Linked DNA regions of Homo sapiens. The protein of the gene in region 3 interacts with the protein of the main gene of each other region in a biochemical or structural test. Each region holds a gene or a part of one and is shown on either strand. Other genes may lie near its edges. The genes, in order: PTPRB, CCDC88A and INSR.

Region 1 (3,655 bases), on a different chromosome or scaffold from region 3:
CTCCTACTCCTGGGAAGACTAAATATATAATTGACTTATTTATTAAATTTAGGAGAAAAAAAAAGTTTTCCTTGACATTCAGCTCTATTGGATTTATTTCCATTTAATTGCATCATGTGTTATGTCTTGGTAAACACTCCATTTCCTGTCTTGGTGGGCATCCTGTCTGTGTACCTGTGCAGTACACTTTAATCATCAAGACTTCAAAGTGCTTTTGAGCTATCAAATCTTGGGAGAGTCCCATCTAGCATCTTAATAATTATTTTTCCAAGTTCGTTATAATTAACTCCTTTAACCTCATCTCATTAAATCAATTTTGTATTGTCATTCTGTTGTTCTCTGGAAAGCAGCCAATTGTTCAGCTCTTGAATCAGAATTTTCAAAGACTCACCTCTCTTACCTGGGCTTGCACATATTTGTCCTAAGTAATTCTCTATCCCTTAAACCTCTGAGTCCCTCTGTTTTATTACTTGCCCCACTCCTCCTACTTGAATATGTTTGTTTTCCCAGTTGAATGTGATTTTTATCTACTGTTCATATTATCTTTTATACCCATGAGTATAATTTCATAGTCCTTTCAGGTTCCACATCATCAAAGAGATGACCATAATTTCACTTTTTTTTGAAATGAAGTCTTGCTCTGTTGCCCAGGCTGGAGTGCAGTGGCACAATCTCAGCTCACTACAACCTCCGCCTCCCAGGTTCAAGCGATTCTGCCTTAGCCTCCCAAGTAGCTGGAATTACAGGTGCCTGCCACCATGTCTGGCTAATTTTTGTGTTTTTAGTAGAGATGGGGTTTCACCATGTTGGCCAGGCTGGTCTTGAACTCGTGACCTTAGGTGATCCACCCACCTCAACCTCCCAAAGTGCTAGGATTACAAGAGTGAGCCACCGCACCTGGCCAATTCACTTTTAAATACTAAAAGGCACACAGCACACAGACATTTTCGGGGCAGTTTTCTTTGGGAGGGTCTTTGATAAATTTTGTAATCACCTCTCGGAAGAAAGCCCAAAATGACATGTGAAAATAATATTAAACCATTTACCAGATGTCCAGCAATATAAAAATAGACCTCACATGCTACCCTTCACATGCTGATTCTCTTGCCTTGCTGTTTAAGGATCCAGTTTCTTATGTTAAACATTTTCCTTACCTTTTGCAATAATATTATTGGCCATATACTAAATTCTCATTCACTTAGCTTTCTAAGAATTCTTTGAGGTTGGAATCCTGAAATCATAAAGCTACCAGATCTGCACAACAGCAGTGGTAGTATCTGAGCCCAAACTCTGAGACGCTCTAGAGTTTTAGTTTACAAACATGAGCCAGACCAAACCTGACCTGGTGAAAATCAATAGGTAATAAACTGCTTGTATATGATAGCAGTTCAAGGGCTTTCTGGGTTCCATTTCACTGAGGAAATGAAAATATAACTGATTAGCCAAGACAGAGTGGCAATAAGGAATAACTGATCCTCCTCCAAGTTGCAGTGAGCAAGCCCTCAAGCCTACCTCATTCCTGAAGAGTTGAAGGAGAAAATGCCGTGCTAATTTTCTGCCCTGCTATTTTTAACCTGAAATTTAGAATTACATCAGGTATTCAAAGAATGTTCCCTATCAAAGGAAAATCTGTAAACGATGACTGCAAAAAGCAAGTGAAATGATGCAAAGAGAAAATATTTGCAAAACAGAATCTAACCAGACATCATCATGAAGATAAAATGGCATCTCTTCTGTGTGGCCTGGGTGTGCTTGGACAATCCTGTCACACGTTTCTATTAGGACATGTTGCCCTTTTGAGGATTCACTCTATGTTGGCCAGATGGTTTAACTGATTAAACAATTGAATCAATTTATTTTGCTTTTTGAATTGACCAGATATTTAACTAAATGTACTGGGTTTGGCATTTTAGACACACTGCCTTAGATTCTTGTAGTGCATGATGACTTTGAAAATGTTTGGCCATTTTAGTTAAAATGCAGGGTAACATTTGATGCAGCCATGATAACAGGAAAAATCTGTTCTGTTCTAAAAATGTTTCTAGCAATAGAAGTATTTCTGGCTAAGAGAATACTCTTGACTTGTAGGGAGGCTCCCTCGGAATAAATGTATGCAACACAAATAAGGCATTTTATTTTTTAAAAGATTGTCTATATAAGATACACTTATTAAATAAAGAAATTGTTGGTGAATGCTCTGAAAATAGAGGCTTATGTAATGGAAATAAGAGATTAACAGGTTTACCAAAGATTATTTTTATAACCTCTATGCCAATTCACATGATCTTATATAAGACACCAAAATAAGTTATTCAAAACTGTGAATAATGTCAGACAAATGCAATGTGTCCCTTCTAGAACAGTCACAAAAAGAATTGGTTATAGCTATTTTAATAAATAATATCCTCACCCCAAGAACAAACGTTCAGTTATGCTGAGATGTTCTAATAGCTGTGTGCGTAGATAAGCACCTCCATCAAGAAAGGAACACATGAAATTGTGGCTTTAAGAGTTTGTGGCAGAGTTGGACAGCATTCCATCTGCAGGTTAGTAGGAAAGCCTGTACCAGCCTTTGTGGAATGTCCTAGTCTGCCACACTGACAAGAGGGTGCACCAGTGCTCTACTGGAAGAGTATTTCTGGTTTTCTATGCAGGACTATTGGGCTTATAAATTCCTCAAGAACAAGGACCAAGTCTTTAATCTCGTCTCGACTCCTACCTTGTGGAAATTAGTGCACAGCTCATAGACATTCTACACACACTTCTTGAAATTGCTCCTGGCCTGATATTTTGGATGTTAGGTAGTCAGTGTCCAATAATACTGTTGTCCGTGCAGGTTAATCTAGCCATTCCTTCATTTGTGTGAAGCATAAATAATGTAAGTAAATACAGCAACTGAACTTTTTATGTTCTATAATAGAGCACTTTTATGTTTTTAATATCATTTATTATTTCTCTGAAAATCCAGTTAAGATGGCAGATGATTCTATTTTTTCATATTATAGCATCTACCCACAATATTTCTAACTAACTGTATTTGAACAAAGAACTTCCTTAGTCTTTCAATTTAAATTATGTATTTGCTTAATACATTTTTATATTTGTAACTGTGGTAAAAAAAAAATCTATATAGCATCTTGCATACATTCTCACTAGTACAGGAATAAAACTGCAGTTTGTTGAAGGAGAGTGCTCTGTCTTCTATTCACCTGCTCCTCATTTATCAATTTTTGTCATCTGTCTGTTCAGGAGAAAGGCCAAAAGTGACTGCTTTAAAATGAGAAAAATCTTCCAGGACATTATCATGAAGAATATAGTTGTCTTAACCTTTAGTCCTGTAAGTACTGAGTTGGTTACCTACAGTATTGTGTACATAATAATAGACTCTCCAGCTGACCGTCTCCAACTAAATTCCTGTTTTCAGTTCTTTACTTCATTAATAACCAAAATGTCATCTGTTACCAACAGTGTTGGTGTACTCTCAGAGGTACTGCCCTGGCTAGATTTCCACTGAGCCCTTCAGAGACACTTCACACATTTGCGGACAGTGTGGCATTTGGTAAAGAGACGCCATGACTATTTCCAGAGTTATGAGTTTGCCCTTTTGCCTTTTTCATATTTTAGTGGAAAGATCACTGTCCTTCACAACTCCAAT
Region 2 (3,655 bases), on a different chromosome or scaffold from region 3:
TTTTTTCGGTGTCCTAATTCTGTTGTAAATGACCTATAAAATTAAAGGAAAAGAAAAGAAAAAAAAAGTATACTTTTGCTTTGTTTGAATAATTTGCTAAAATAAGATCAAATTTATCTTAATAAATTATTTAACTGATAGGGCAACAAAATATACATTGTTTTATAAGCTGTATTTTGCTAATTTTGAAGTCATTAGGATTTCTGTTAAGCACTTTACTTAGATTAATGTATGCTTTAATGTACTCTATTATAAAGTGTCAGTTGTAACTCTATACCTAGTAAATGTAAAAGTTAGGCCTAGTCTAATTTCTACAGTACATTTAGTTACAGAATTTGTGAGCAAGAACCCTTTGTAAATGAAACTATTTATATATTTTCCATGTTTCTTGTGCTTGGAATTCAATGAGTGTCTTGGATCTGTGGGTTTATAGTTTTTATCAAATTTAGAAAAGTTTCAGTCATTATTCCTAGAAGAAAATATATACATATATATATATATATATATATATATATATATATATATATATATTTATTTATTTATTTATTTGACCTCTTCACCCTTTTGGAAGTCCAGTTACATATATATTAGTAGCTTTGATGTTGTCTTAAAACTTACTGATGTTTAATTCAATTTTCTTTCAGTCTTCTTTGTTTCATTTTGGATAGTCTGTTGTGATGTCTCCAAATTTATTAATTTTTTCTTCTATAATGTTTAGTCTGCTCTTAATCCCACCCACCATATTTTTCATTCCAGATATTATAACTTCATCTTTAGAAATTGTCTTATATCTTCCATGTCTATGTTTTTCATGCTCTGTCTTTTCTCTAGCTTCTTGAACATATGGAATACAGTTATAATTGGCTTAATGTCTATGTCTGCTAATTCTGTCTGTGTCATTTTGGGGTTGGTTTCGGTTGATTGATATTTCTTCCCATTATGGATTCTGTTGCTTTTGCATGCCTGGTGATTTTTTTTTTAATTTGATGCCAGTCATTTGAAATTTTAGCTTGTTTGGCGCTGGATATTTTTGTATTCCATTAAATACAAAAATCTTGAGCTTCGTTCTGGGATGCATTAAGTTACCTGAAAACAGTTTGATCTTTTGGGGACATGCTTTTAAGATTTGTTAGGCAGTACTACTTTGTCACACTGTTGAGGCAAAACCCCTCTGAATACTCCAGCTGGTGGAAACAGGACCTACTTGGTGGTGTTCGCTCTCAGTCTTTTTGGTGGTTCTTTCACTATCTTTGGGTAGTTTCCTCACACTTATATTCTGATAAGTACTCAGACTTGAGGGATACCCTCTGCAGATCTTTCTCACTGTTCAACTCTGTTAAGTACTCTGCCCTGTGTACTTTAGCTACCTTGCTGTCTCCAGACTCAGTTCTGTCCCCTCAGCTCAGACCATTGTGCTCTGCCTGGATTCCCCTCTTCCTGTTCTGTGGCCTGGAAACTCTTTCAAGGCCATAATGCTGGAGCAGTTGTTGGATTCATGCTTGTTTCCCATCGATTGGGGATCACTGTCTTTTGTTGCCTGATGTCCAATGTCTTGAAAAACGTTTTATGTATTTTGTCTTTTTTTCCCCCCAGTTGTTTCAGGGAGGAGGGCAAATTTGGTCTCTGGCCACCAGTAGAAATATGTTTGTATACTTTTTTGTTTTTCAAGATGGGGTCTGGCTATGTTGCTCAGGCTGGAATATGTGATCATAGTGCATTATGGCCTCAAACTCCTGGGGTCAGGCCATCCTCCCACCCTAAACATCTGAGTAGTTGGGACTACAGGCACGCGCACCACAATGCCTGGCTGTTTATATACTTTTAATTACATTTTTGCTCTGCTAGTCTTATATTACTGCTTTTAGATGTGAGATGGACTTTTTTTATAGGAACCTTTTTTTTTTTTTTTGAAACAGAGTCTCGCTCCATGCCCAGGCGGGAGTGCAGTGGTGTGATCTCAACTCACTGCAAGCTCTACCTCCCGGGTTCACGCCATTCTCCTGCCTCAGGCTCCCGAGTAACTGGGGCTACAGGCACCCACCACCACGCCTGGCTAATTTTTTGTATTTTTTTAGTAGAGACGGGGTTTCACCGTGTTAGCCAGGATGGTCTCGATCTCCTGACCTCGTGATCCGCCTGCCTCAGCCTCCCAAAGTGCTGGGATTACAGGCATTAGCCACCACACCTGGCCAGGAACCTTATTATATAAGTTTTTTCATCTAAAATGTTTATTAAGACTAAGAAAATTGATTAATTTAATGACTCTGTTGTTGCTGTTTTGCACCCAGACTCTGAAAGTGAAGAGCTAACTTCTTCATGACACTGTTTACTGACTCTGCCTCACAATTTTGAAGTCTTTTCACTGACTTGAGATTTACTGTATTCAGAGATGAATCCTGAATTTCATTGAGTAGCTTTTTGAAGCAAATAATCTCTGTTAGAACTTGTAACATGACTTCAATCGTCTTAAACTAATGGGAAGGAAGAGGAAAGCTATTCAGAGATCTGGAATGATGGGCCAGCTCTTCTGTACGCTGTAGGGCATTTTCCTACTTCAGTGGATTGAAATCTTTTTTCTTTATTGTTATCAGTTGTAGGGCTTGGTGACAGTGAAGTAGAAATAATTATTTTCCTGTTTGAGATGTCATTTAATTCTGGAGCCAGTTTTGAATATTACTTGCTGTGAGTTTTTAAGGAATTTGTGACATTGTAGTTAATTTCATACTCCTAAAATTTTAAAAACGTCCAATTCATATTACCCAAACGGTTGAAAATATGGATGTCTTAGGATTTTAAGTACTGAGAAAATTGTTAATAGTATCAGAACAATATTTGGAATTATTATTTATGATTCAACCCTATTAGATAGTTATAGAGAGCTGTACTTGGAACACTTGGTAATTGTGATAAACTTGTTATGGCTTTTCCTTTAGAATTTTGGGTTTGAAGGGACTTCAGAAGTCATCTGCCCTTTTTTGTTTGTTTGTTTGCTTGTTTTTTTTTTTTGTTTTTGTTTTTGTTTTTTGAGACGGTCTTGTTCTGTTGCCCGGGCTGGAGTGCAGGGGCATGATCACCGCTCACTGCAGCCTTCACCTCCCGGGCTCAAGCTATCCTCCCACCTTAGCCTCCCAAGTACCTAGGACCACAGGCACGCGCTACCATGCTTGACTAATTTTTGTATTTTTTGTAGAGATGGAGTTTCACTGTGTTGCCCAGGCTGGTCTCAAGCGATCCACCCACCTCAGCCTCCCAAAGTTCTGGGATTATAGGCACAAACCAGCCTGACTCTTTGCTTGACTCTATTGACTAGGCTGTGAGTTTCCTGAAGCCAGGGACTCTATCTTTTGTCTCTGTATTCTTAGGACAGTGTTTGACACACAGTACATTCTTGATATATTTCTGTTGAATGATTGAATAATACAGCCATGTGTAGTAAAGTGGAATGAATTTGAGCCTTATGTCAGATAGACATAGACTTGGGTTCAGTTCTAGCTGTGCTACTTATTGGTATGTGAGCCTAATATCTCCAAATTACAGTTCCTACATTTATAAGATGGGAGATAATGTTTCCCTTCCTGATGGGGAAGGATTATCTACTAAGGCAGGGACAGATAAGTCTATTTTCTGTTTTGTTGACCCACTATATCCCCAGTGC
Region 3 (3,655 bases):
CTAGTTTTTGTATTTTTTTTTTTTAGTAGAGATGGAGTTTCACCACATTGGCCAGGCTGGTCTCGAACTCCTGACCTCAAGTGATCTGCCTGCCTCGGCCTCCCAGAGTGCTGGGATTCCAGGCGTGAGCCACCATGCCCAGCCCTTGCACTACATTTTGACATAAGTAACTAACTCCCCATGAAGGTATCCCAGAAGCCCTTGGCAGCTCACTGTTTAGAATCTGTCAGGGAAGTGCAGTCAGCAGGCAGCCTGCAGCTGCAGAAACTGCAGGACCTGCTGTAGCATTCCAGCCAAAACCTGACTCTCCCTGGACAGCCCCCACCTATGACTGAGCTTGGTAGATGCCTGGCCGTCCCTTTGCAATGCAGAACTTCCCTGCAGACAACCGTGGCCTTGATCTCTTTCTGGGTTTGGCCAAGACTCAGGGATGCATCACCATCTGAGACTCTCCCAGCCCTATCCTCCCTCCTTCCCGCTCTCTGTTCACAGAGGTCAGACACACGCTATTGTCAAAAGGCTCTTCATGGCTGAGCGTGGTGACTCACACCTGTAATCTCAGCACTTTGGGAGGCCGAGGCGGGAGGATCACCTGAGGTCAGGAGTTCAAGACCACCCTGGCCAACATGGCAAAACCCTGTCTCTACTAAAAATACAAAAAAAAAAATTAGCCGGGCTTGGTGGCATGTGCCTGTAATCCCAGCTATTCTGGAGGCTGAGGCGAGATAATTACCTGAACCCAGGGGAAGGAGGTTGCAGTGAGGCAAGATCACGCCACTGCACTCCAGCCCTGGGTGACAGAGCAAGACTCTGTCCCAAAAAAAAAAAAAAAAAAAAAAGAAGCTCTTCCTCTGTTTCATATTTTATGAATATTACCCTCAATACATTTTCTGCACTCCTAACTTCAACTTGGCAGTCACTTCCCAGGAGATGCAGACTGACATAGGTATTTTACTCAACTTTGAAGTCTTCAGCATCAGCCTGATACACATATAAGAAGGTGTCATCCATTCATCCATCATTCATTCATCCATTCATTCAGTGCTTGTATGACTTCATCCCGTATCCGGTACTATATGGCACAGTAAGCATAGTGATAATATTAATAAATGTGCAGAATCTGCCCTCAGTAAGAAAGCCTATCACACAGTGAGTTGTTAGAGGGAAGTAATACCCCCTGGGGGTGACTGTGATGGATGAGAGAGGACAGCCACATTATCTGGTTTGTGGACCACTTACAGCAGGGGTCCCCAGCCCCTGGGCCACAGACCAGTACTTATCCATGGCCTGTTACGAACAGGGCTGTACAGCAGGAGGTGAGTGATAGGTGAGCAAGTGAAGCTTCATCTGTATTTACAGTCACTCCCCATCGCTTGCATGACCACCTGAGTTCTGCCTCCTGTCAGATTAGCGGCGGCATTAGATTCTCACAGGGGTGTGAACCCTATTGTGAACTGTGTACATGAGGTACCTAGACTGCACACTCCTTATGAAAATCTAATGCCTGATGATCTGTCACTGTCTCCCATCACCCCCAGCTGGGACCATCTAGTTGCAGGAACACAAGCTCAGGGTTCCCATTGATTCTACATGATGGTGAGTTGTACAATTCTTTCATTATATATTACAATGTAATCATAATAGGAATAAAGTGCATAGTAAATGTAATGCACTTGAATCATGCTGAAACCATCCCCACCCACCACCAGTCCATGGAAAAACCATCTTCCACTACACCGGTCCCTCATGCCAAAAAGGTTGGGGACCAGTGACTTACAGGATGCCTGGTCCCCATTGGTCTTCAGGGCAATGTCGTTTCTCTCCTGGCGCCCCTTGGTTCCTGAAACTTCTTCCATCTTGTGGATTTCTGACAAGCAGAGTTTGGGGTTATAGTGGAAGAAGAGTTTCCCCTGAGTGATGGTGAGGTTGTGTTTGCTCCAGTCCCAGAGCTGCCTTAGGTTCTGGTTGTCCAAGGCATAGAAGGAGTAGTTCCTATGGAAAAAACACACACATCTAGTCATTCAACGGCTGGTCTTCTACAACTCCAAGATGGTGTGGCCATGCTCGGAGTTGATCTTGTTCAGTGCTACGTGCCTAATCCTCTCCACTTGCTTGGCACATACTCAACACATATTTGTTGAATGTGGATAACAGAGGAAGTTGAGGAAGTTTTCATGGCCAGGAAGGAGGCTCAGCTCAGTCTTGAAGAGGGGTGGTGAGTCTGTGATGGACTGAGGAATAGGTTTTGCAGAAACCAATTTCTGCAAATAGGGGAAATACTGATAACACAGAGGCACCTAAGCTGAGTTCAGGGAAGAGCAAAGTAGCCTGTTTTGGCCAATAGGTGACAGGAAATAGCTGTAGTTGCAATGGACCAGACCCTCTAGTATATTGCATGCCAGACCAAGACCAAGAACATGTGGCCATCCTTAATAAGGAGAAAGGAGCCATTGAAGGTTTTTGTTTGTTTGTTTGTTTGTTTTATTGAGATGGATTCTCACTCTGGTGCCTAGGCTGGAGTACAGATAATATAGTCTAAACTATATTGTTTAGACCACCTTCTCAAGTCACTTACCAGCTCATGTTGATTAACATGTCCTTTTGTCCCTTTCCCCATTTGCTGTCTGTTCTACAGATGTGAGGCTGGGGCTGAGGCAGCCATCTTGTGACCATGAGGAGCACAAAGATGGAAAGAATCTGGGTCTTCCACAGACCTCCTGCCTATGAGTCAATCTTGATCTAGCTAGTTTGAGTTTCTGCTGTTTTGCTAATAGAGTTTCTAGGACCTCAAGGAGAAGGTTGGAATATACTGGAATATACTGAGATGGAGTCCATCCCAGAAATTAGGATGGACAACCGGGACTAAGAGGGAATGTTCATTTTATGCATGCCAAACTCTACTCACAATGCAGCCCAAACAGCAAATTTAGCAAAAATTCCAGCCTGTACCCTTGGAGGATGGGCACCAAGGTTGGGCTGCTCCCACTTTTGTTTCTCAAGAATGACTATAAAAAAGCTTTTACAATTTTTGGCTGGATGGACCTTTAGGCACATTCCAAGTTCTTTTTTCCCGAGGTTTTGCCAGATATACTTTTATTTGTTTTTTATTTGTTTTTATTTGATTTTTAAAAAATCCTTAAGTTTTTCCTTTTCTTTTCTTTTTTTTTTTTTGGACAGAGTCTCACTCTGTCACCCAGGCTGGAGTGCAGTAGTGTGATCTTGGCTCACTGCAACCTCTGCCTCCCAGGTTCAAGCTATTCTCCTGCCTCAGCCTCCCAAGTAGCTGGGATTACAGGCATGCACTATCACACTTGGCTAATTTTTGTACTTTTAGTAGAGACAGGGTTTCACCATGTTGGCCAGGCTGGTCTTGAACTCCCCGCCTCAAGTGATTCACCCACGTTGGCCTCCTAAAATGCTGGGATTACAGGCATCAGCCACCACACCTGGCCAAAAAAATCCTTAAGTTGTTCTAATACACGAACTTCCTAGTTAGCACTCAGGCCATACACACAATCAGGCCCACGTACCCAATTTCCAAGGTCTCTCCTCGAATCAGACGTAACTTCCGGAAGAAGGAAAGTGACACCAGAGCGTAGGATCGGCGGATTTTTAGATACCCTGAAATTTCTTCAATGAGGCCGAGGTTGGCTTC

The links.
Region 1: of the proteins of INSR (region 3) and PTPRB, one has a biochemical effect on the other in vitro, tested with the Homo sapiens proteins (one large-scale study listed by IntAct).
Region 2: the proteins of INSR (region 3) and CCDC88A form a complex in vitro, tested with the Homo sapiens proteins (one study listed by BioGRID).

The regions. Positions count from the first base shown.
Region 1 is NC_000012.12:70,515,399-70,519,053, reverse strand, and holds the end of PTPRB (receptor-type tyrosine-protein phosphatase beta), read left to right. Parts: 3' UTR 1-3,184; downstream 3,185-3,655. UniProt on the Homo sapiens protein: Plays an important role in blood vessel remodeling and angiogenesis. Not necessary for the initial formation of blood vessels, but is essential for their maintenance and remodeling. Can induce dephosphorylation of TEK/TIE2, CDH5/VE-cadherin and KDR/VEGFR-2.
Region 2 is NC_000002.12:55,413,320-55,416,974, reverse strand, and holds part of CCDC88A (girdin), read left to right. Parts: intron 1-3,655. UniProt on the Homo sapiens protein: Bifunctional modulator of guanine nucleotide-binding proteins (G proteins). Acts as a non-receptor guanine nucleotide exchange factor which binds to and activates guanine nucleotide-binding protein G(i) alpha subunits.
Region 3 is NC_000019.10:7,168,760-7,172,414, forward strand, and holds part of INSR (insulin receptor isoform Long preproprotein), read right to left. Parts: coding exon 3,531-3,655; intron 1,993-3,530; coding exon 1,778-1,992; intron 1-1,777. UniProt on the Homo sapiens protein: Receptor tyrosine kinase which mediates the pleiotropic actions of insulin.